7 linked regions of the Homo sapiens genome follow. The protein of the gene in region 4 interacts with the protein of the main gene of each other region in a biochemical or structural test. Each region holds a gene or a part of one and is shown on either strand. Other genes may lie near its edges.

The links.
Region 1: the proteins of TBPL1 (region 4) and MAST1 interact in a test that uses a peptide from one of them, tested with the Homo sapiens proteins (one large-scale study listed by IntAct).
Region 2: the proteins of TBPL1 (region 4) and GIPC2 interact in a test that uses a peptide from one of them, tested with the Homo sapiens proteins (one large-scale study listed by IntAct).
Region 3: the proteins of TBPL1 (region 4) and RAPGEF6 interact in a test that uses a peptide from one of them, tested with the Homo sapiens proteins (one large-scale study listed by IntAct).
Region 5: the proteins of TBPL1 (region 4) and SHANK1 interact in a test that uses a peptide from one of them, tested with the Homo sapiens proteins (one large-scale study listed by IntAct).
Region 6: the proteins of TBPL1 (region 4) and FRMPD4 interact in a test that uses a peptide from one of them, tested with the Homo sapiens proteins (one large-scale study listed by IntAct).
Region 7: the proteins of TBPL1 (region 4) and FRMPD1 interact in a test that uses a peptide from one of them, tested with the Homo sapiens proteins (one large-scale study listed by IntAct).

Annotation. Positions count from the first base shown.
Region 1 is NC_000019.10:12,862,515-12,866,014, forward strand, and holds part of MAST1 (microtubule-associated serine/threonine-protein kinase 1), read left to right. Parts: intron 1-2,294; coding exon 2,295-2,433; intron 2,434-2,531; coding exon 2,532-2,664; intron 2,665-2,801; coding exon 2,802-2,967; intron 2,968-3,202; coding exon 3,203-3,304; intron 3,305-3,465; coding exon 3,466-3,500. UniProt on the Homo sapiens protein: Microtubule-associated protein essential for correct brain development. Appears to link the dystrophin/utrophin network with microtubule filaments via the syntrophins. Phosphorylation of DMD or UTRN may modulate their affinities for associated proteins.
Region 2 is NC_000001.11:78,080,466-78,083,965, reverse strand, and holds part of GIPC2 (PDZ domain-containing protein GIPC2), read right to left. Parts: intron 3,292-3,500; coding exon 3,106-3,291; intron 1-3,105.
Region 3 is NC_000005.10:131,432,730-131,436,229, reverse strand, and holds part of RAPGEF6 (rap guanine nucleotide exchange factor 6), read left to right. Parts: coding exon of another isoform or gene 1-279; exon of another isoform or gene 280-469; intron 470-2,571; coding exon 2,572-2,800; intron 2,801-3,500. UniProt on the Homo sapiens protein: Guanine nucleotide exchange factor (GEF) for Rap1A, Rap2A and M-Ras GTPases. Does not interact with cAMP.
Region 4 is NC_000006.12:133,987,578-133,990,932, forward strand, and holds the end of TBPL1 (TATA box-binding protein-like 1), read left to right. Parts: 3' UTR 1-2,855; downstream 2,856-3,355. UniProt on the Homo sapiens protein: Part of a specialized transcription system that mediates the transcription of most ribosomal proteins through the 5'-TCT-3' motif which is a core promoter element at these genes. Seems to also mediate the transcription of NF1. Does not bind the TATA box.
Region 5 is NC_000019.10:50,664,303-50,667,802, reverse strand, and holds part of SHANK1 (SH3 and multiple ankyrin repeat domains protein 1), read left to right. Parts: coding exon 1-1,611; intron 1,612-3,500. UniProt on the Homo sapiens protein: Seems to be an adapter protein in the postsynaptic density (PSD) of excitatory synapses that interconnects receptors of the postsynaptic membrane including NMDA-type and metabotropic glutamate receptors via complexes with GKAP/PSD-95 and Homer, respectively, and the actin-based cytoskeleton.
Region 6 is NC_000023.11:12,141,473-12,144,972, forward strand, and holds part of FRMPD4 (FERM and PDZ domain-containing protein 4), read left to right. Parts: intron 1-3,500. UniProt on the Homo sapiens protein: Positive regulator of dendritic spine morphogenesis and density. Required for the maintenance of excitatory synaptic transmission. Binds phosphatidylinositol 4,5-bisphosphate.
Region 7 is NC_000009.12:37,730,954-37,734,453, forward strand, and holds part of FRMPD1 (FERM and PDZ domain-containing protein 1), read left to right. Parts: intron 1-30; coding exon 31-150; intron 151-1,350; coding exon 1,351-1,487; intron 1,488-2,519; coding exon 2,520-2,646; intron 2,647-2,776; coding exon 2,777-2,872; intron 2,873-3,500. UniProt on the Homo sapiens protein: Stabilizes membrane-bound GPSM1, and thereby promotes its interaction with GNAI1.

The sequences.
Region 1 (3,500 bases), on a different chromosome or scaffold from region 4:
TTGGAGGCCCATTATAGTAGCTTACGACTGTAATCCCAGCACTTACAGTGGGAGACCAAGGCAGGCAGAACACTTGTGGTCAAGAGTCCAAGATCAACCTACCCAGCATGGTGAAACCCTGTTGTTGTTGTTTTTTTCTTTTCCTTTTTTTTTTTTTTTTTGAGACAGAGTTTCGCTCTGGCTAAACTCGTTGCCCAGGCTAGAGTGCAATGACGTGATCTTGGCTCACCGCAACCTCCTCCTCCCGGGTTCAAGCGATTCTCCTGCCTCAGCTTCTTGAGTAGCTGGAATTATAGGTATGCACCACCACACCTGGCTATTTTTGTATTTTTAGTAGAGATGGGGTTTCTCCATGTCAGCCAGGCTGGTCTCGAACTCCCAACCTCAGGTGATGTGCCTGCCTCGGCTTCCCAAAGTGTTGGGATTACAGGCGTGAGCCACTGTGCCCGGCCAATGAAACCCTGTTTCTACTAAAATTACAAAAATTAGCCAGGAGTGGCGGTGCACGCCTATCATCCCAGCTACTCGGGAGGCTGAGGAACAAGAATCTCTTGAACCCGGGGGCGGTGAGTGGGCAGAGGTTGCAGTGAGCCGAGATGGAGCCACTGCACTCTAGCCTGGGTGACAGAGCCAGACTCTGACTCAAAAAAAAAAAAAAAAAAAAAAAGAGAAAAAGAAAAAAATTAAGAAAAGATAATCCATTTGGCTCTTGTGGAGAGAGCAGAATCAGGAGACTAGGAGGTAGATGACTGCTCTAGTCCAGGTTCATTGCAGAGGAGGAGGAGAGAAGGGGGCCAAATCAGTATCTCTATGGTGGGTCTGTGTGCACAATAGATGTGCTCAAATGCAGATTCCTGGGCCCCACCCTCAGAGAGTTTCTGAAACCAGCAAAATCTCGCAGAAAAGAGAACAGAAAAAAGAAAGAAATCATTAGCTTTCTTGGTCATTGGTGATTGAAAAACCAATATTACCTTCAGGAATGGCTGGATGTAGGTGCTCAAACCATTCCATCAGGAAACTCTCCATCTCTTGGCTCTGTACTCCCACATGTGGGCTTCCTTCTAGACAAGCCCTCATGTAGCAAGGTTGCCATCTAGCAGATCTCAGCTTACATTCTATGAGCTTAGCAATTCTTACAGGAAAAGAGTGAAAATTCCAAGGGCTAACTCACTGGAGCAACTTGGGTTACATACTGCCCCGGTTGCTGCACATGGAAGGAAATCTAGCCTTTGTAGGATAAAAAGGAAATAGATATTGAGAAACTGAAATACCAATGCCAATTACAGTAAATCTGGCAGAGGGGCAGAGGCAGTGGCCAACACTTTGGGAAGCTGAGGCAGGAGGATCCTTTGAACCCAAGAGTTGGAGACCAGCTTGGGCAACACAATGAAACTCGTTTCTACAAAAAACTTTTTTTTTTTTTTTTTTGAGACGGAGTCTTGCTCTGTCACCCAGGCTGGACTGCAGTGGTGCGATCTTGGATCTCTGCAACCTCTGCCTCCCAGGTTCAAGCCATTCTTCTGCCTTAGCCTCCCGAGTAGCTGGGATTACAGCCGTCTGCCAACAAGCCAGGCTAACTTTAGTATTCTTTTTTCAGAGATGGGGTTTCACCATGTTGACCAGGCTGGTCTCGAACTCCTGACCTCAAGTGATCCACCCGCCTTGGCTTCCCAAAGTGCTGGGATTTCAGGCGTGAGCTACCATGCCCAGCCTTGAACAATTTTTTAAAAATCAGCTGGGCATGGTGGCTCACATCTGTAGTCCCAGCTACTCAGGAGGCTGAAGCAGGAGGATTGCTTGAGCTGGGAGGTTGAGGATGCAGTGAGCTGTGATCTTGCCACCGCACTCTAGACTGGGCAATGGAGTAAGACCCTGTCTCAAAAAAAAAAAAAAAAAATCTAGTGAAGACCAAGAATCTGCATCTAAGGCTTCCAGCTCCAAGGTTCAGACACCAGGAGATAGAGGGCTGTGCTTCCAGATGCAGTTGATAAGTGGGTAGCCTTTGTTCCCCAACTAAACCTCACCTCTACCAACAACTGCCTGCATGACCCATCCTTTCTTTGAGTCTCCATCCCTTTGTGTATAAGATGAGCTGATGACACCAACTTTGGAGGATGGCTAAGAGGACAAGAAGAACCCAGTAGAGGACCTGGAGGGAGGGAGGCCCCTCTCAGAGCCTCAGTTTCCCTTATCTATAAAACGGGTACAACATAACATGAGAAGTTGGTGCTATGGTGCATGTCCAGAGAGAGGAATGCCTCCCTTTTTATGCGGGCCCATTTCCTGGCCTGCAGGCGGCGACTGTGCCACCCTGCTGAAGAATATTGGAGCGCTGCCCGTAGAGATGGCCCGCATGTACTTTGCTGAGACGGTGCTAGCCCTGGAGTATTTGCACAACTATGGCATCGTGCACCGCGACCTCAAGCCTGACAAGTGAGCTTTGATCTTTCCCATCACTCCCTCTGTCCCTCGGGAGGCCAGGAGGCAGAATGGACGGGCCTCATCCCTGAGATCCCCACCTGTGCCTACAGCCTCCTTATCACCTCCATGGGTCACATCAAGCTCACAGATTTCGGCCTCTCCAAGATGGGGCTCATGAGCCTCACCACCAACTTATATGAAGGCCACATCGAGAAGGACGCCCGAGAGTTCCTGGACAAACAGGTGTGTGTGCGGGCATGGGGGTCGCTGAGGGTGGAGTGACCCTGCAGGACCTCGGGAACCCAGGGCCTGGTGGGGGGCACAGCTCTCCCTTGAGGGCCCTCCTCTGGCTGGGGCGTGGGCTGACAGCCTGCCCCCAGGTGTGTGGGACCCCAGAGTACATCGCGCCCGAGGTCATCCTGCGTCAAGGCTACGGCAAGCCAGTGGACTGGTGGGCTATGGGGATCATCCTCTACGAGTTCCTGGTGGGCTGTGTGCCCTTCTTCGGAGACACACCAGAGGAGCTATTTGGACAGGTCATCAGTGGTACGTGGCTTGGCAGTGTACAGGGGCAGAGTGTGGTGTGCACGGAGAGATGGACAGGCTCAGGGTTCCAGGGATTTCAAAAGCGACCCCCCAGAGGATCGCTTGCACTCAGGAGGTCAAGGCTGCAGTGAGCCATGATCGTGCCACTGCACTCCAGCTGGGTGACACAGTGAGATCCTGTGTCCAAACAACAACAACAACAAAAACCGCCCCTAAGTTCCGTTTTGTTTTGCAGATGACATCCTGTGGCCCGAGGGGGATGAGGCCCTACCTACGGAGGCCCAACTCCTCATATCCAGCCTCCTGCAGACCAACCCTCTGGTCAGGCTTGGGGCAGGTAAGTCCGCCATGCAGAGGAGCTGAGGGCCCACTGATAGAGAGCAGGCCTCCAAAACCCCAGGCCCAGCCTGTGCTGTGGCCCCGGGGCGGAAGACATGGGGGGCGGGGCTGGGCTGCTGGGTTGGCCATCAGCTGTGGCTGGAATCCCTTCCGTCCCAGGCGGCGCTTTTGAGGTGAAGCAGCACAGTTTCTTT
Region 2 (3,500 bases), on a different chromosome or scaffold from region 4:
ATCAATCTCTAGTAAAAATCAGAGCTTCTGAGAGAAATAGTTGATTCTAGGTCAGGGGAAAAGGAGATACAAGATGGGTCTAGAATATCTTGTTGTGTTCTAGAAAGTAAGAACCTACTCAATAAAATGATAGGAGCCATGTCAAAAGGACATGGGGGCCCACTTACAGGGGTTCCTGCAGGCCAAGTCTCAGGAAATTTGAGCATCAATATAATTGATAGTAACAGACTATAAACCATTCAGTAAAACACGAAGTCATGTACCCATGTTGACAATAAATAAGGGCAGCTTTTTCCCTACCATAAAATGCTTTCAGAGAAACATATAAGGAGTGATGGAATTAGAAAAATCATCATTTTTTCAACCATTATAGGAAAAATTAATTCAGGTAAGACTCATCAACAGATACTAAATTTGTGCCATGCAAGTAAGAAAACAGGGTATTTTCATGATATCAAAGCATCTCTCCACAATTACGTATCACAAAGGAAAATAATTTTGTAGTGAAAAAGACTAGTGGACACTACCTCAGACAAGTGACAAAAGTTAATCTCACAAACAATGAGACAAACCAGTTTCATGTACCTTCTGATGTGGTGCACTGAGAAGGACACAGCATCACTTATGTAATTTTCCTACCAAAAATGCACAATCTATTTATCAACATGAGGAAACATCAGAAAAACCCAAATTCAGGGACATCCTATAAAAGGCTGAGGAACTATTCTAGATTAAGGAAGACTAAAAAGACATGACAACTATTCTAGATTATAAAGAAGACTAAAAAGACATAAATGAAATACAGGATCCTAAATTGGACCTGTATGAGGGGAAAATAATGAACACAATTAGGACGCTGATAAGACTACAATGTGAACTATAGATTAGTTTAAAAGTATTATATCAATATTAGACTGTATGAATTTCATAATTGTACTGTAGTTATATGTAAGAGAATATCCTTGTTCTTAGTAATTACACTCTGAAGTACTAAGGGGTAAAGAGTATATATATATATATGTGTGTGTATGAGACAGAACAAAAAACTCAAACATGGCAAATGGTAAAAATTGGAGATTTGGATAAATGATTTATGGGAGTTCTTTGTATTATTATTGCAATCTTTATGTAAGTTTGAAATTATCCTCTCCCAATTTTTAAAAAATTTCATCAACCATGTATACAGTATAATGTGCATCTCTCTTCTAAGTTGAACTATATGTTGGCAGTTTAGATTATGCCTTGCTTTCTCCTTTGCTAACATGCCCTATATCTCCACAGGGCTAGTGACTAGTACTCTGAGTCAGGCACATGTTTGACAAAGCATTTTTTAAAAAATAGAAAGACAAGCTCTGAATGTCAGAGGCTAAGATTTTAAAAATCCACACACGTTTGTGAAACTTCCAAGCCCTTCTCTGCTGCCTGTGCCTCATGTCCTGAGCTTCCCTTGGATAATCCCATATGACTTTCCCAGTCACAGATTTTCCATTTGGTCACTCACTCAACCTTCAGCACAGTCATATCTTTTGCAGAGCTAAAAATAGCCATTCTATCAAGTGGGTAGCGAAAGTCCCATTTACAGTTAAGAAGATAACTTCCCTAAGATTATTTAATGGTGACAATGCATCAGCAAATCAAGATTTGGACAAAATAAAGGCACAAAATATTCCCTGTTGCATGAAATCTATCATTAATTCTTAATCGAGTGAATAGAAGTGCCAGCTCTGAAGTCAGACCTCATAGATCCAAATCCTGAATGTGTCCAGCTGTATAACTTTGGGCAAGCTACTTAACCTTCCTGAGCCTGTTTCCACATCTGTAAAATAAGGTTGGAAATAGTACCTATCCATGGATCTCATAGGCATCTTTTTGAGCAAAAGAAGCCGAAAATAGTGGAGTATATAATATATGATTATATGAAGTTCATGGCAATAGATGCCAGAATAATGGCTACTTTGCGGGGAAAGATTATTGACTGGGAAGGGGCACAAATGAGCCTTCTGAGTGGCAGAAATGCAATTTATCCTGATCTGGGTGATGGTTAAACAGGGATAAGTATGTAAACATTCATTAAGCTGTACATTAAAAATGTCTTATACTGCAACAAAAAAATAAATACAAAGAAAAAACATAATACCAACCAAATAGAATTGTGAGAATTAAGTGAGAAATTGTATGCAAAGTGCCTAGTACATGCATTCAATATAAGTCTGTTACTATTATAACTATTACAATAATAGAGTTGTTATTTTTAAGAGATGAGACTACCTTTCTCCTCAGTTCTTAGTTTCACACCATTTCAAACTTTTATCTTGCCTTTGAAGCTCTATATCGCTCTCTTTGTATTTGAATAAAGGAATTACAGTTGGCCCTGGGTATCCATGGGGGATTGGTTCCAGGACACACCATCAATACTAAAATTCCACTGATGTTCAAGTCCCTGGTATAAAATGGTGTAGTATTTGCATATAACCTATCCACATCCTTCTATATACTTTAAATCATCTCTAGATTATAATACCTAACACAATGGCAATGCTACATAAGCAGTTGTACTGTATTGTTTAGGAAATAATGACAAGTAAAAAGGCCATACATGTTCAGTACAGATGCCATTTTTTCAACTACCTTTAATCTGTGGTTGGTTGAATCCACTAATACAGAACCTACAGATACAGAGATCCAACTTTATATACTTCCTAAAATTTTGAAGGGCATTTTTAAAGAAGTAAATAAGGCAGTCAAAACTAGGAACAGTTGGAAAATAACACTAATTCAATGGAAATAAGCCAGAAATTCATCAGATGTTAAAACCTACAGACATGGAAAAGCTTATATGGATAATGAGTAGGCACCAGGGTTAGACTTTCCTTTCAGTTAGTTCTAAATTCTAGGGGAAGTTTAAACTAAAGGGAAGAAATTAAGAAAATAGTAAACACAAACTGACATCTGAACATTTTTAAAATGAAAGTGAAACATTACCAATTCATGCATCCTTGCTGAGCGGGCTCTCACTCTGAAGATCATTTCTAACTTTCTTTGGCCTGGTAGATTTTCTTAAATGTTATCCTCAATTAGGTTACACTGTTATTTTTTAAAACTTACCTTTATAAAAGCATAGCCAACACCATTATCTGTAATGGTGAGACCAAGTGAATCCTCAGATTTATACACATTCACTTCTTTTTCGATTCCTTTCACATGGGCAAATATGAAATCTTCTAGTCCTAGTTGTCCTCCTAAGAGTCTTTCCATGTCAATTTTAGGTGTGTTTAAAGTGCAATATAAGATCTGCAAAGAAAAATAAAATGTCAGGTCCATTTCCACTTGGAATACATCTGACCGTTAATTTATTTATAAACATTTATTGACTGAAATACTCCTCAATTTATGATGTAAAGAGTTACATCATAAAATGTGTTTTTATGTTGGCTAGAGAGATTCTGGGACACATTTTCAGACAGTAGCATTAGGTAACATGTATTGAGGGTTTCCTGTAG
Region 3 (3,500 bases), on a different chromosome or scaffold from region 4:
GACAGGACAAGTTGTGAGAACACAACCAGAAAAAGAATGACATCCCCGTTTAGAAGACTTAGGGAAAGAATGCTTTCAAGGGAGAGACTAGTCAACAGCCAAAAAGAGGACACAGATCACAATCAAGCTACAGAAAGCTGTGAGAAAGTGAAGGATGTTGGAAGCAACATCAAAGATGAGAAAGGGAGTGCCATCTTCAATTCAAATAGCCAAGGCAACAGTAACACTTTAAACTGCTTCTATACGCGATTCAAGTCTAAAAGGAGGAAGACACTCTGATGAAGTTCCTTATTTAATTTTAGTGTTAAGTTTGTTTTCAGTTATTAATGTATACATGGCTTAAATTAAACCATTTGTCAAAGCTTAGGCAGACAACTTAGTAAAATACTATTTATAAACACTTGAAAATGCCTCATTTGTACATAAGTTATTTTACTGATGTATTGAGTTAGTAAATTTTATACTCTTGTTTTCTGTAGTTGACTTTATTTCCTACTGTTAGCTGGATCTGTGAGTGAAATATGTAGAGGAGGCTTTTTTATCTTCTACTTTTTACGTATCTTTGATTGGGGGAGAAGGGACTAGTCTAACATAGCAATATCAGAATCATCTGGGAAACTTGTTAAAAAATGCAATTACTGTGTCCCACCCCAGACTTCATAAACTTGAATTGCCAGAAATGGGATCTGGAATGTTTATTTTAATTGGCTTGCCAGGTGGTTCTTAGTATTATTATATTTGAGAAATACTGATCAAATAGACATAAGAATGAAATTATTTTTTAAACAATGAAGCAAGATTATTGTGTAGAGCAATGACTTTTTCTTTTCAAGAAGAAGGTTTTTATTTATTTTTAATTTACTTATTACATCCACTTTCTTGGTCCTCTTAAAAATTGACTAATCAGCTCATGGACATTGACAAATAGCAGTGATCCCAAGTTCAGAGATGTATGATAGACGTCAGAAGACTGGCTTGTCTTGGCTTACCCTGTTCCTGTCCACGTAGGCCAAATATAAATCACACATTTTCTAGGCCTTTTTCTCTTTGAAATAGTTAACGAAACGACTTAATAAGATTACTGTGCAACAAATTATTCCTTAAATGACTTGAGTTATATGTGAATAACTCCAAGATCCATAAACAGAGAAAGACTTGGAACTAAGGATGTTGTCATCCTCTTTCTGCATGAAGATGAGGCCCTGAGAATTCCAGTAACATACCCAAAGCCTGTAATTCTTCCTAATGACATTTCTAGGTATTGGTCCAAAGGTCACATATCTACTAAACCCTACTTTCCTCTGTGAGCAAGAAGATATTTTTTACTTCTTTGAGACCCGTCCCTTGTTGGGATTACTAGGGCATTTTCTTTTTCTTTTATTTCTAAACAAAAATTTGGTTTCTTCCAGTTATCAAAATAGATTATTATGTACATTAGCCATTCTGTTGCAGATTTGTTTTTGGGTCCTTCACCTCAGTGCGTCCCTAGAATACAGAAGAACATCTCTCTAGTTGTCTGCTGTGCAGTAAGTCACAGAACAACATAGAACATGTAGATGCTGTTTTTTTCTATAACACATTATTAAACATGTATCCACTCAGCTGTTTAATATTCTGCAAGGTTGGTGAAGAAAAAGGAAACTAAGTATGACACTAAGTTTAAACCTAAAACAATTTAAAAAACTGAAACAGGCTGGGCATGGTGGCTCATACCTGTAATCCCAGCAATTTGGTAGGCTGAGGCGGGAGGATCGCTTGAGGCCAGGAGTTGAAGACCAGCCTCGGCAACATAATGAGACCTCATTTCTGCAAAAAGTTTAAAAATAACTGGGTGTGGTGGTGCAGACCGTAGTCCCAGCTACTTGGGGCTGAGGCAAGAGGACCACTTGAGCCCAGGAGTTCGAAGCTGCAGTGAGCTATGATCGTGCCATTGCACTATAGCCTGGCAACAGAGCAGGACCCTGTGTCTAAAAAATAAAAATAATCTAAAACAGTGACTCTCAACTCAAGACAAGACTTCTTAGGTGGGATATGCAGAATATATGGGGTAAGTATATATAGTTTGATAAAGCAAAAATGTAGTTCTTTCCCTTGAGTCCTGGACTCCCACCCCTACCCTTACTTCAAGATGGTATTTGGGATTCAGATCAGGTCAAGAAATATTCATATTAATCAAAGGAAGGAGCGTTGGGTTAAAAAGAAGTTGAGAAACCCTAAAGACATGTACTTATTAATATTTGTAATCTTCTTATTTTATTAAATGATTATAGCTGTGGGAGAGCCTGAGAAAGATATACCTTTAAACTAGTTTTCTGAGTAACACTGGACTTTGACTGTCTTTTTCTTGAATGTGTAGTTGTATTGGTGTGGTGTGGATAGTAGGCAAATGGTTATGTAGGGGAATGTGTGGAGAAAATTGGCACCATTATATCTACATAGATGGAAACTAAAATTGCTTCTACTTTGTCTTCTGTTATTTTTGTGGGGTTTTTTTTTTTCATCCTTTCCCCTACTACCCCCACCATATGTTCCCTTTTTTTGTAGTTTGATCAGTGCTCTTTTCTTGTTCAGGTTACACACTTATTCCATCAGCTAAATCTGACAACTTGTCTGACTCCAGCCATAGTGAGATTTCTTCACGGTCCAGCATCGTGAGCAATTGTTCTGTTGACTCCATGTCTGCAGCTCTACAGGATGAACGGTGTTCCTCTCAGGCCCTGGCAGTCCCTGAATCCACTGGGGCATTGGAAAAGACAGAGCACGCTTCAGGGATAGGAGATCATAGTCAACATGGCCCTGGGTAAGCATCATTGTCTGTGTTCATAACACAAAACCCAAGCCAAGTGGCCACTGCAAGGAGTGCTCCCCACCTTGACCTTGGACCTCCCATGGGGTAATTGCAGAGTTATCCATAAAAGAATATGTGGGCCAAGCACATATTCTCTATTCTGAATATGTAAATAAGCACTATGTTGAAAGATGTATGGGTGTTCATTTTTAAAGTGTTACTAAATTCAAGTAACTTTTTATCATTATGTATCTTTCCAGTCAGAACTCAAAGTGCATCTGCTACTTATATAGGGGAGATAATTTTTGAAATTCTGGCTATAGGTTAATCAAAAAGGTTGTGTTTTGGAAAGTGCCTCGAGTGCTGTGCACATTGTAGACAGGTTGGGAGAGTAGGACTAGCCCTTGATCTCTGTCCTCTGAAAGTGTAATTTGGGGAGTAAGAATAATCACCTAGCAAAGGTTAATTAAAAAAAAAAATCAACTCTAAATTTCTATTTAGAATCAAGCAACGTGGAAATCTTTGAGAAAGTTTATTCTAACTGATAAATATTGTGAAATCTGGTCTACTTTAATATGAAAAATTTAAGATAAATTATTACCACATTTATAAAGATTTCTAAACTAGGATCTCTACACCAGAGGTCAGCAAATGTTTTCTATAAAAGTTACATAGTAAACATTTTAGACTTCACAGGCCATAAGGCCTCTGT
Region 4 (3,355 bases):
CTTAAGACTTTGGCTAAAGTGTGTTGGCTTCTTTTTGAAGTGTATTTTGTGTGTGTGTGTGTGTGTGTGTGTATATATATATATATATATGCACCACATGTGTATAGTATCTTTTAATGCTCTGTTACCAAATAACAAATAGGAATTTTTTTTCTTGCAGATTAGAAATAAAAACGTGTATATAAACTCTAGGGAACCAGACTAGAAGTTTATAGATAAAGGATAATGTTTTATGTTGCTAATTTAATATGATAGAAAATGTTAAATAACTTGTAAAGGTTAAGAAATTGTAGTTTTAAGAAGAGAAACCTCTTACCCACTAGATGGAAATGAGAAAGAAGCTGTGATGAATGGTGCCTCATTTGGACCTTTGTTTTTCTGGAAAGACTCAACACCTGTAGTTGTAGAGAAGTGATTGAGGTTCTTGACTTTAATCTTGGGTTGATGCCCAAGCCTATACTAAGAGTCTTGTCAGAAGTTGGTAACATGGAGATGTTTTAACAAGAAGTGCCCATAAGCTGCCTCTGTGCCACAGTGTAATTATCAAATAGCCCCACTTGAATTTGAAAGCCATTTTGTGTGATACTGTCCTTCCCCTTGCTGTATCTTATTTAATGGAGTTAAAGAGTGACTATTCAGTATATGAGATTGCTACTCTTAAAGTTATAATAAATATGCATTTATGAAACAGTGTCTCTGGCTCACCCAGGAGCCCTGATGTGGTAATACAGGATCAAGCTGTAGTTGTGCCCTGTCATTTAGGTTTAGGAGTTTAGTGTAACCAACAGTGATTATACCTAGAAATAAAGCTGAGTGGAGAGTCCAATTAGCTTCTCAGGAGAAACTTAATGGGGACAATATTCCAACACAATGTTCCACAAAAACTTGTATTTCCAAAATGTTTTTAAACCTTTGTGGAAAAATTGCAACATCCTAATCTCCATATATAGTACATTTTCCTTACTGTATTATAAAATCTTGAAAACCTAGCTTAGGCACTGCACTGAACAACACATATTATTTTTATCTTTTTTCTTCTCAATGCCTTCCCTAACCTCCTGCTTATTCCAAAGTGGAAAGCAAAGGCTAACTTACATTTTTCCTTCTTGTGAAATATTTCATTGAGATTTTTAGACTTGTATTTTTCCTTTTTTTTAAAAAAAAAGTGTTTATTTCCTTTATTTTAAGATTCAGTAGGATAGCCAAATTCATAGAGAATAAAATTACATGAAAGAGTTACAAGCTCACTGTTTTAAAGACTTGACATTTTTCATTTAGTTTTAATTAACAGTAATAAGTCACCTCCTGTTTTTCAATGTTCACCAAAAAAAGAAACATAGAATAGGGGGAAAACATGCTTATATAGCCAAGGTACAGATCCAGATGATGTAACCTTTTTAGTATTCGCATGACTTGAAAACTGGGCAGATCAATAGATAATCGAAGTGCTTTATCTGAAGGGAGAGGGTAAAGACAGTGTGACCAGGTTTGTTTTCAGGGCTGCCGAATGAGCCTCACCTAACAGTGTCCATGGGTAATTCGCTAACCTTAACAAAGATGGGAAGAAGTGAGTGCTCTGATGTCTTCTGCTGGCTCTCCATAAGTACTGTAAATTTTTTTTATAAATAAAAACTGTGAATATATATGTACAAGTTGTAAGTATTTCCCCCTTTTTATTTTTGAAAATCAAGAAGCTTGATTTGGTGTGGTGCAATGGATATTGGATAAAAATTTGAAGACAAAATTGTTTAGTTACAGACTCAGGATAATAAAAGAAAAATATAAAAGAATGCTCAAGATACTGAAGTCAAGGTCACTAGTAATAAACTGGCTAGGTTGATAAACAATTTCCTGCCCATTTATAATGAAGGGCTAAACAAAAAATACCTGAAGTATATATAGAGTTTGAACTATAAACACGGAAGGAAACATGGGGCAGAACACACTTCCCTTCTCTTTCCAAAAACAAAAAACAATGCATGCTCTGATTTGCGTATGAAATACACCATGATAGAATTGAGATCTCCAATCTCCTTTCCTTTTAGCTTCCCCCTGCCAATTTTTATACAGATAATACACTGCAGATCCAGGCCTTTTAGTCAGTCTCCTGAGTCTCTGATATAGTTTTACTACTTACATAGGTTTATAGTCTCTCCACATTGTTATAAAGGAATGTAATAGATCATGTTTCCTTATATGACATTGGGACAGTTTGTTAGGAACCAATAGGAAAATTCCAAGCTAAATAAAAAGGAGCTTTGGCTCTTAGGATTCTCTTTTCTTCAGGTTAATCATATTTTAAAATTCTTTTTCAAGTTAGGTTGTTCGTGCTTTTAAGTTTTTTGTGTGTCTTCCATCACTTAAATATTAGTAATTTAATATGTTATTTGGTTCAAGATTTGATTGTGGATTTTCTATCATACCCAAATTTTATTAGTAAGACCTCTTAACAAGTCTTTAAAATCAACTGGAGAAGTAAGAGAACAGTTCATCGTTGTGTGGGTGAAACCCACGTTGCTGGTACAGGTGGCCATCATAGAAAAGAACATGAGGGAATTGTCCTGATGTCTGAATGTCATTTATTGTGTCTTCAGTTATCTGAACATCATCATCAATTATAGCCTGTGTACCGTAACCTGAGGTAGTGATATTCCTGAGGAGTGTGAAGAATTGGACACTGTGGATTACTATACATTGTCATGAAAGCCTTACAAGGAGGCAGCTTTTCTAGGCTTGACTTAATAACTTCAACCTAATTGCTTAGAGATTTGGATAAATAACCTAATGGCCTGACTCCTTTTCTAATGTTTTACTAACAGCTACTTCTAAATAAATATGGTCCCAGGATTTTAAAATTGTCTTTTCTATGCATTTTTTAAAAATGGAAAAAAATGCTCATTTTTCTCAACTATTGTGGAATTATTTTAATATTTCACAATATTAACATGAAATTCATAAAAGGATATTTTGCATTAAATTATAGTTTATAGTTCATAAAATAAGCTCTATAATCTTTATACTTGTTGAATGTAACTAGGAATTACCACTAAAATCCTAGCCAGGACCCTCTCCTAATCTAGATAGAATATATGGGCAGTTGTCCACACTGTGTGTTCTGGTTCTTTTTTGCGTAAGATCCAGTGCAAGTAGTGTCTTGGTAGGCAGAAACTGTACCCTCATGTCCAGACCACTTGTGTGTCTGCATAATAAAGCTGCGACTGGCCTCCATACATACATAGCTTAAGGCGGAGGTTGATGTCTTCACTAGGACATAGTCTATTCAAAGGCTGCTCTGTGAAGAAGGTAGAAAGTATTAAACCAGCCAGTAACTTTTTTTTTTTAACCTGATATCCTG
Region 5 (3,500 bases), on a different chromosome or scaffold from region 4:
GGCCCCGCCGCCCACCCCGCACCACCACTCGCCCCACGCCCACCACGAGCCAGTGCTGCGTCTCTGGGGGGCCTCCCCGCCGGACCCTGCGCGCCGGGAGCTGGGGTACAGGGCCGGGCTGGGCAGCCAGGAGAAGTCCCTTCCCGCCAGCCCGCCCGCCGCCCGGCGTTCCCTGCTACACCGCCTGCCGCCCACCGCTCCCGGGGTGGGGCCCCTCCTGCTGCAGCTGGGGACGGAGCCCCCGGCCCCGCACCCCGGAGTAAGCAAGCCCTGGAGGTCCGCAGCCCCCGAAGAACCCGAGCGGCTGCCGCTGCACGTGCGGTTCCTTGAAAACTGCCAGCCCCGGGCCCCTGTGACGAGCGGAAGGGGTCCCCCCTCGGAGGACGGGCCGGGGGTCCCGCCGCCCAGCCCACGCCGGTCCGTGCCCCCCTCCCCGACCTCCCCGAGGGCCAGCGAAGAGAACGGGCTGCCCCTGCTGGTCCTGCCGCCTCCCGCCCCCTCGGTGGATGTGGAAGATGGCGAATTCCTTTTCGTGGAACCGCTGCCTCCGCCTCTGGAATTCTCCAACAGCTTCGAAAAGCCAGAGTCGCCCCTCACGCCTGGGCCTCCCCACCCGCTGCCCGACACACCTGCCCCTGCCACCCCGTTACCCCCTGTGCCACCCCCGGCTGTGGCCGCAGCCCCTCCCACCCTGGACTCCACCGCATCCAGCCTGACATCCTATGACAGCGAGGTGGCCACCCTGACCCAGGGGGCCTCCGCCGCTCCTGGGGACCCCCATCCACCAGGCCCGCCTGCCCCAGCAGCACCGGCTCCCGCTGCCCCACAGCCTGGCCCGGACCCTCCGCCTGGCACGGATTCTGGCATCGAGGAGGTGGACAGTCGGAGCAGCAGTGACCACCCACTGGAGACCATCAGCAGCGCCTCCACGCTGAGCAGCCTATCTGCCGAAGGTGGTGGCAGCGCAGGGGGTGGGGGCGGGGCTGGGGCCGGTGTGGCCAGTGGGCCGGAGCTTCTGGACACCTATGTGGCCTACCTGGACGGCCAGGCCTTTGGGGGCAGCAGTACTCCCGGCCCGCCATACCCTCCTCAGCTCATGACTCCCTCTAAGCTCCGGGGCCGGGCGCTAGGAGCCAGCGGAGGCCTGCGGCCTGGCCCCAGCGGGGGACTCCGAGACCCTGTTACCCCCACCAGCCCCACCGTCTCGGTGACAGGGGCTGGAACCGATGGGCTGCTGGCCCTGCGTGCTTGTTCAGGACCCCCCACGGCAGGCGTGGCGGGGGGTCCGGTGGCTGTAGAGCCAGAAGTCCCACCGGTGCCCTTGCCGACGGCCTCCTCTCTGCCCCGGAAGCTGCTGCCCTGGGAGGAGGGCCCGGGCCCACCGCCACCACCTCTGCCCGGGCCCTTGGCCCAGCCTCAGGCCTCAGCCTTGGCCACAGTAAAAGCCAGCATCATCAGTGAACTCAGCTCCAAGCTTCAGCAGTTTGGGGGCTCCTCGGCAGCTGGCGGCGCTCTGCCCTGGGCCCGAGGAGGCAGTGGGGGAGGCGGAGACAGCCACCACGGGGGAGCCAGCTATGTCCCCGAGAGGACCTCCTCCCTGCAGCGGCAGAGGTAAGCGGGGGCTGGTGGCCAACAAGGGAGGCCAGAGGTGTTGATGGCATGGCTGTGTCCCTTTAGGGTCTCAGGGTGGCAGAAAGGAAACAGAAACCAGGTTGGCAGGAGTTTGCTGTCACAGAAGCATGCTTTCACAAATATTTTCTTTTTCTTTTTTTTTTTTTCTTTTCTTTTCTTGAGAGGGAGTTTCACTCTTGTTGCCCAGGCTGGAGTGCAATGGCGTGATCTCGGCTCACCACAACCTCTGCCTCCCGGGTTCAAGCGATTCTCCTGCCTCAGCCTCCCATGCCACCACACCCAGCTAATTTTGTATTTTTAGTAGAGATGGGGTTTCTCCATGTTGGTCAGGCTGGTCTCGAACTCCCAACCTCAGGTGATCCATCCGCCTTGGCCTCCCAAAGTGCTGGGATTACAGGCATGAGCCAACATGCCTGGCTTTTTTTTTTTTTTTAGAAACAGGGTCTCACTCTGTCACCCGGCTGGAGTGCAGTGGTGTAATCATAGCTCACTTGCAGCCTCAAACTCCTGGGCTCAAGCAATCCTCTGGGACTATAGGTGCACGCCACTATGCCTGGCCAATTTTTCTTTTCTTCTTCTTTTTTTTTTTTTTTTTTTTTTTTTTGAGACAGAGTCTCACTCTATTGCCCAGGCTGGAGTGCAGTGGTACAATCTCAGCTCACTGCAACTTCTGCCTCCCAGGTTCAAACGATTCTCCAGCCTCAGCCTCCTGAGTAGCTGCGATTACAGGTGCCCGCCACCATGCCCGGCAAATTTTTGTATTTTTAGTAGAGATGAGGGGTTTTGCCACGTGGGCCAGGCTGGTCTTGAACTCCTGACCTAAGGTGATTCATCCCACCTCGGTCTCCCAAAGTGCTGAGATTCCACACATGAGCCAGCATGCCTGGCCCTGGCCATTTTTTCTTTAACTTTTTGTAGAGACAAGCTACGTTGACCAGGCTAGTTTCAAACTCCTGGGCTTAAGTGATCCTCCTGCCTTGACCTCCCAAAGTGTGATTACAGGTGTAAGCCACTGGGTCCAGCCTTTAAATTTCCATTTATTTCAGTAGCTTCTGTTGTCTCTGCCCATCACCATCACAACCTACATCCCATGATGAACAAAAAGTTATTAACAGGCTGGGCGTGGTGGTTCACGCCTGTAATCCCAGCACTTTGGGAGGCTGAGGCGGGTGGATCATGAGGTCAGAAGATCGAGACCATCCTGGCTAACACGGTGAAACCCCATCTCTACTAAAAAAAATACAAAAAATTAGCCGGTCATGGTGGTGGGCACCTGTAGTCCTAGCTCCTCAGTAGGCTGAGGCAGGAGAATAACTTGAACCCGGGAGGCCGAGGTTGCAGTGAGCCAAGATTGCACCACTGTGCTCCAGCCTGGGTGACAGAGTGAGACTCCGTCTCAAAAAAAAAAAGTTATTAACAAAGGAGACTGGAGTGAGACCTGCTTATGTTTGTTTCCTTGGTGAGCTGCCACTTCTTTCTGACAGTCCCTGAAATCTGTGAGTCCCTTGAAGCCAGTGTGGTTCAAGACAGGATGCAGTTATAGGTGTGGTTCTAGAGCCCACCTTCTCAGCTTCCAGTCCCAACCCTGCACTTTCTACCTGGGTGATCTTAGGCAAATGAATCCACCTCTCTGTAGAAGTGGAATGGCCTAGTGCCAGCCCAAAGAGTTTTTGAGAGGATTTAGTGTGTGCCATTGTTGTAACATGGGATGGGGGAAGAGGGGGCCTCGAACAAGAGCCCAGCAACTTCTACGTGGGGAAATACGGGATGATGCAGATGCTTCCCAGAGCAGCCAGTCAGCTGCATCGTCGCAGAATTCGAGCCCATTCAAGACCTTCTAGTCCTAGAGAAAGTAGAGTTACATTTCT
Region 6 (3,500 bases), on a different chromosome or scaffold from region 4:
TTTTGACTTTTTAGAGTGTCTACATTTAACTATTCGTTTCCAGAATCTATACCCTTTTAATCGTGGGAAAAATCAGAATTGACAGTGCCCCTCAATAACCCAGTACCATTAAAAAAAAATTGCTGCCAAGTGTTGGAATTGCTGGTAAGTAGTTGGCACCCTTTACATCATCAGTTAGAGTTATGACCCTTGATTGCATCCTTCGTGGGTGGCACAGTGTGTCATGGTTCTATCTGAAGATGGTTTTTCCCGTTCTTCTAATTTTCTGGTTCTTAAACTGCTTGATAGTTTACATGCAGTTTTACTTCACTGTTTCCTTGGTAACAGTTCTATATTATTTTCCATCCTTGTAGATGAGAGCATTACAGATGATTGCCTTATAAACCAGTAATAGTATAAAAACAGGCATATATTTTTATTGTTACTGCTCTTTGTATTGACTATTTTATTTGTAAAGCAGATGCATTCTTTCAAATGTTTATAGAAGAATGCAGTCCAGTAGAAAAACATATGATTATGCCCCTTTTGCCAGAGGGAGATGATTTGAGATCCAAAACTCATAGGGATGTTATTAAATTGAGTGATATGTTCATAGATTAAGTCCCTGATTTGGCTTCTTTTCTTTAAGCAAAACGGTAGACTTGATGATAATGATTGAGTCCCCACTGTTGATATGATGATTTCTTATAGTAGTAGGTAAATTTGGGGAATGCTTTACTTTGCATTTTCTTATAGTTGCATGGGTTATTTTGTGGTATATAGCAGTGACTAATATCTAATATTAGAATGCTAATTTTCTTACAAGTATCTTATATTTGAGGAAAAATACAAAATACATATGTATAGTTTCCTTAGATTTTTATGTCAAGTCCATTTAGATACTACTAAACTTCTGTCTTTTACCTTTATCTTATTCAGAATTAAATATTTCCCAGGGAAAAGGGGAAGTTAAAGAAGTAATGCAAAAGGTCAGGGTTTTTCCCATATCCCCTATTTTTACTGAGTAATTGTATTAATATTGCTGATAATAGTGAGCTCTGGAGGCTAGCAATGAAAAAACCCCAAAGACTCTGGATTTGAATTTTATTAAAAATGCTACTTGCTCATCTTCTGAATCCTTTCTAAGTTCTGCTGATTTTTGTGACTGTCAGGAGGTGAAATGATGAACAGTTTCATAACAGAACTAGATTCCTGTTTTAGGAATATTTAACTCTAGTTTCCCAAGAGTTGCTAGTTTGAAGCTGTGAAAGTCTAGTCGCTCGCAGTTCTGGGAAGAAGGCGTCTAGGTCAGGCTTTGTACCATTTCAAGCATCTCTCTCTCTCTCTCTTATTGTCTGGGGCAAGTGAGTTTCACCTTCTTGCTATCAGAATTTGGTACAGACTGACAGCTGCAGTGAAACTTACTTGTACTTTAAATGCATGACCTGGAAAGTCTCACTTTCTGCTTATGGTCCTTCCAGCTGTTCATTCTCCCCCTTTACATACACATACACTGTTCAACTTTAGTACTTTGTTATTTCATTTGAGGTTAACCGTGGAAGTTTAGCTGTAAGAGAATGTACATTATTGGTGAACTAGAAATGTATCTTTAAGGAATGAACTTGAAACCACTGGTTTCACACTTGGCTCAATAAGAAAACTCAAGACCGTTTAAAATCTTTGTTTAAGCATACCGTCCTGAAATCTACCACTGTTACCATCAAATGATCTTTAATCTTGAAAGCTAATCATAGCAGGAAAAGAAAATTATGAATAGGCTAAAACAGGGGTTGGCATACTGTGGCCTATGAGCCAAATCTGGCTTGCTGACTGTTATGGCATAGCCTGTGAGCAAAGAATGGTTTCTTTATTTTTAAATGGTTCAAAAATATCAAAAAAAGAATAATATGAAATTAAAATTTCAGTGTCCATAAATAAAGTTTTATTGGAACACATGTCCATTCATTTATGTATTATCTATGGCTGCATTTGCCTGACAACAGCAAAGTTGAATAGATGCCACAGAGACCTTATGGCCTACAAAGCCTAAAATATTTACTCTCTGGCTCTTTACAGAAAAAGTTAACTGACCCCTGGGTTAAACAATGCCTTTTTCCTGTTTTCTCTTCTTTATCATTAGCAGCACACATGTGGGCACACACATGTCAAATCGAGCATATTATAATAAATACTTGAATTCACTGACCCCTGGGTTAAACAATGCCTTTTCCTGTTTTCGCTTCTTTATCATTATCAGCACACATGCGGGCACACACGTCAAATTGAGCATATTATAATAAATACTTGAATTCACTAATGCACATTACCAGTTAATATAGACCTTATCTTTATTGAAACTTCTGATCTCAAATTACTTCTTGAACTGTTGGAAACTGACCATTAGAAGTGGACATAATTGTCCTACTAATTTGTTGCACTTGGAAAAATTATGCATGCTTATTCTTTGGTCACTAAGTTGACCTGATATTTTTGGGGAGCTGGAGAGTTGCTTGTTAAGGTGATGTTTGCCTTCCATAAATATCCAGTTCAAAATGTATGGAAAAAGAATGGGTGATACTACTTGTATAGCCTCAACCAATGTGTGCTGGTGAACTGATAATCAAGTCAACAGGAGAATGCCTAGTATTTCCTTACAGTACACTTGAGCCATCTGGTCCTAATGGCTAATGACCTTCACTAATCTGTTTCCAAATGGAAATAAAACCAGATAAGTGGATTTAGTTGTAGTCAGAGGAATGGAGGTAGGCTGTATCAATTTGGAGTTGAGTTTAATCTAACTTTCCTATGATTTGACTGAGAGCATTATAATGAGAAATCATAGACTACCTTTAGTTCTTTACAGCAAAAACATATATCAAAAGTATGCTGCCTTGCTTCTGAGTAATTTAGGTCATTATGTACTTAAGCTCTGAAAATTATCTTGAAGAAATCTAAGCCTTAGTTTTAGATAACAAAGTTAACATTCCCATTTTTTTTTTTTTCCTGGCAAAGAGATGAGAAGGGTTTTCTGCCAGAACTGTTCTTTCAGAAATATATTTTCAAGTATGGTTTACAGAATTTGGCATAAGATAAATAGTCTATACTAAATAATTAGTGAGTGAAGTCATATACAATTCATTCTAACATTTGTTGCAAACAAATTGTCATATTTGTTTAGCTGAACAATTACCATGTCAGTACTTCTTTATTGAATATAACGGAATACAATGTACATGTTAAAAGTAAATAGCCTGCTCTTGGACTTGGTCTCAGAGAATAAACTTTTATTTCTGTTTTTACATTTGAAGTATATATATATTATATATATAAAATATAATATATATATTTGGTGATTGATGGTTAAAAAGTCATCAACTTGTATTTCCAAGGAGTCTCTGTTTTACTGCTTTAAGCTCAATAAGCAAAGTTATGATGATATTGAAATGGGTTTTTATAGATGTCAGTAAGTTTTTATTTTAGAAAGTCTTTTTTGAAAGCTAGGAAAACACAATCATTTCTAT
Region 7 (3,500 bases), on a different chromosome or scaffold from region 4:
GATTAATAGTATCTCCCTTACCCATCGCAGGTGGTAGAAAGGGAGGAGTCACATGACTACCGCTGCCTCTTCAGGGTCTGTTTTGTTCCCAAGGACCCCCTGGACCTCCTGAAAGAAGACCCCGTGGCCTTTGAATACCTCTATCTGCAGGTGACTGGGTCTGTGCTTCCTAAAATAACAGTGGTTGTTCTCAAAGATGGTGCACTGGGTGATTTTGAACGTGAGCTCGAGGCCATTAAACAACTCCCTGGTAGGGATTCTCTTTATCTGAAGGAGAATGGGCCTGATCATCGCTCAGAATTCCCTTTTCCATCACTGAGTTGCTGTTTTAGCAGGTGTGCGATATCAGAATGAAATTCAGGCTCAGTCCTCAATGTAGATGATACATTTTCTAATACCATTTTAGGATCTTTAGAATTACAGTTTTTATTGCCAAAAGGGGCCTTAGTGCTTTAAAACCTCGTTTTAGAATGATGACACTGAGTCTTGGAAAGGTCGTGTGATTTGCCTGGGTCACTCACTTAGTGGCAGAGCCAAAACCTGGTTCTTGATCCGTGGCCTGGTGCTCCCCCTATTCTACCTCCTTAGATGAGAGTTATGATGCCATTTTTATTCTGATGAAAAATAATCATTTGGAGCCGGGTGCGGTAGCTCACGCCTGTAATGTCAGCATTTTAGGAGGCCGAGGCAGGTGGACCACTTGAGGTCAGGAGTTTGAGAACAGCTTGGCCAACATGGTGAAACCCCGTCTCTACCAAAAATACAAAAAATTAGCCAGCCGTGGTGGCACACACCTACAGTTCCAGCTGCTTGAGAGGCTGTGGCAGGAGAATCACTTGAACCTTGGAGGTGGTGTTTGCATTGAGCCAAGATCATGCCACTGCACTCCAGCCTGGGTGACAGAGCGGGATTCTGTCTCCAGAAAAGAAAAAAAAAAAGAAAAAGAATCATTTGGCAGATATCACCATTTTACAGATGAGATAACTCAGACTAGGTGGATTGGACTGCCCCAAGTCTTACAGAAATGGTGGCAGAAAATAATAATAATAGCAATAACAACGCCATCAATACTTTATATTTGTATAACACTGTGTGCCTTATACCTGCTTTCATATGCATTATCTAATTTAAGTCTCACAGAAACCACATAAGGTAGATTTTACTATCCTCATTTACCAGACACCAAATGCTTGGAGAGTCTTGGTAACTTAACCAAGGTCACACAGCCAAGAACTGTCAGAGCCAGCTCTCAAAGCGGAGCTCCTGGTCCTGCTGCCTTTCACCCGAGAGAACGAGGGGACACAGTATGTCTGCTTTTGTTTCCCATCTGCTCTATTTAATCTCTTCTAGAGCTGCAGCGATGTGCTCCAGGAGCGCTTTGCTGTAGAAATGAAATGTAGCTCTGCACTCCGACTCGCGGCTCTGCACATCCAGGAACGGATCTACGCCTGTGCCCAGCCACAGAAGATCTCTTTAAAGTATATAGAGTGAGTGGCAGGGGATGGCAGCTGCATTGCATTTATAACTTGCTGGCCCCTGGCCAGGAGGGCCAGATGCCACAGAAAGCTGATAGTCACCCACCTACCCATCTGTCTGTTGTCTTTCCATCCATTTCCCTCTGCACCCTCTCTAATCTGACCTGGCTCCCCCAGATGTCTGAACCTGGCTGCTCTCTCTGGGACAGAAGCCAACTCCAGATGGAATGTCACAGGATTCCCTTGTAAATTGCCTGTTCCTGGGAAGATGTCTTGGGAAATCAGTTGCCAGCATCAGTGTTAAGCTTTTCTAGGGGTGGGAATGCCTTGGAAGTTAATTTTTCCCGTGGATATGAACCAGTTCCTATTGCATTATGTCTCCACTAGAGCAGTTTCAAGTCCTACGATTCCAGCACCTTCTGATTCTTAGCTTAGAATTGTTCTGGACAGCATCACTCAGGTTTGCTAAGCCCCTCCCCAGATCTCAGCTCTGTCCTGCCTGAGCATCAGAATCAGATGGGGAATCATATTTTTAAAAATACAGCATATCCTTGGCCCTACCCCTGATGTACTAAGTCCAATCTCTCGCAGCAGGGCCTGAGAATCTGTAGTTTTAGCAATTTTCTGGGGGATTTTGAAGCTGCTAGGCTGGCACCATGCTGAAGCTTAGCCTAGGGGATTCACAGGAGCTCTGCGTTGCCCCATGAGAGTGTCTTGTACTCTCTTGTATGCTGTCATTATTTGCCATGTATTTTGTAGTGAAAAAGATTCAGAACTCCTGCTCTGACTGATAGATGGTCACACCACACCAAGAGTAATGAGCTCCCAGAATGATCAATGGGGTTTAGTTCCTGAATGCCTGTGGGGATTTTTGTGGAGAGTGTGTGTATGTGTGTGTGAGAAAGAAAAAGAGAGGAGGAGAAAGTGGCTCGTAATTGCTGTATTATGGGAACACTAAGTACTGAATCAAATGTAATTATGCTCTTCATTAGAGCCAAGTACCCTGTAGAAATGGGCCTCCTTGTCTCCAATGTCTCATGGCAGGAAAGACTGGGGAATAGAGAACTTTATATCTCCAACTTTACTCCGAAACATGAAAGGCAAAGACATCAAGAAAGCCATTAGCTTCCACATGAAGAGGAACCAGAATTTGCTGGAACCCCGACAGAAGGTAATGAAGGTGCCTCTGCCGACCCACTCAGCTGTCGTCTGTGAAACCTTAGGAAAAACATTTTCAACACTGCCTGGATTTTAGACCAATGAATAACTCTGACTTCAAGTGTTTTTTTTTCTCTATTAAGCAACTTATTTCTGCTGCCCAGCTACGTTTAAATTATCTACAGATCCTCGGAGAACTCAAGACATATGGTGGAAGAATCTTTAATGCTACTTTAATGGTATGTATTAGAGAACTGTGAAATCCTACTCACGTAAGGGACCTTAGAGATCCTCTGAAAATCAATGTGTCTTTTAGCCTAAAATTCCTGAGGACTCTGTCATGTACTAGAATTTGTCTGGTAAACTAAATAGTACACCACTGGAAAATATTTACCACGCGTTTGCTTGGTGCTACCCCTGTGATAGATGCTAGGGGAAGCAGGGCTGAATAAGATGTGATTTCCGTCCTTGAAGGATGAAACAAGCTACCCAACAAAATGAAGCAAAGCCATGAGACAGGTTCAGGCCTATTGCTGTGGAGTTTGGAGACAGAAGGTAGCACTGCTTGCTTCAGGGTAAGTATAGGGAGGAGAAGGGGTTAAGGAAAGAGGCAAGAGGAAGCCTGAATTTGGCCAGACTTCAGTAGAGAGGAAAAGGCATTCTGGGTCAGAAGGGGATGGTAAGCAGTTCACTCTGGAGCTTTGGGTATATGAAGGTGAAGAGGAAAATTGGAAATCATGAAAGAAAAATAAGAGTGTTTGACTGCCAAGCTGAGTCTCTGATTGTTCAGAAGGGAGGAATGAGGGGTGGGCCTGAGAAGAGAAACGAGAAGCAGAAAAGCCCTCTGCTCTCTTCCCATTCTCCTGC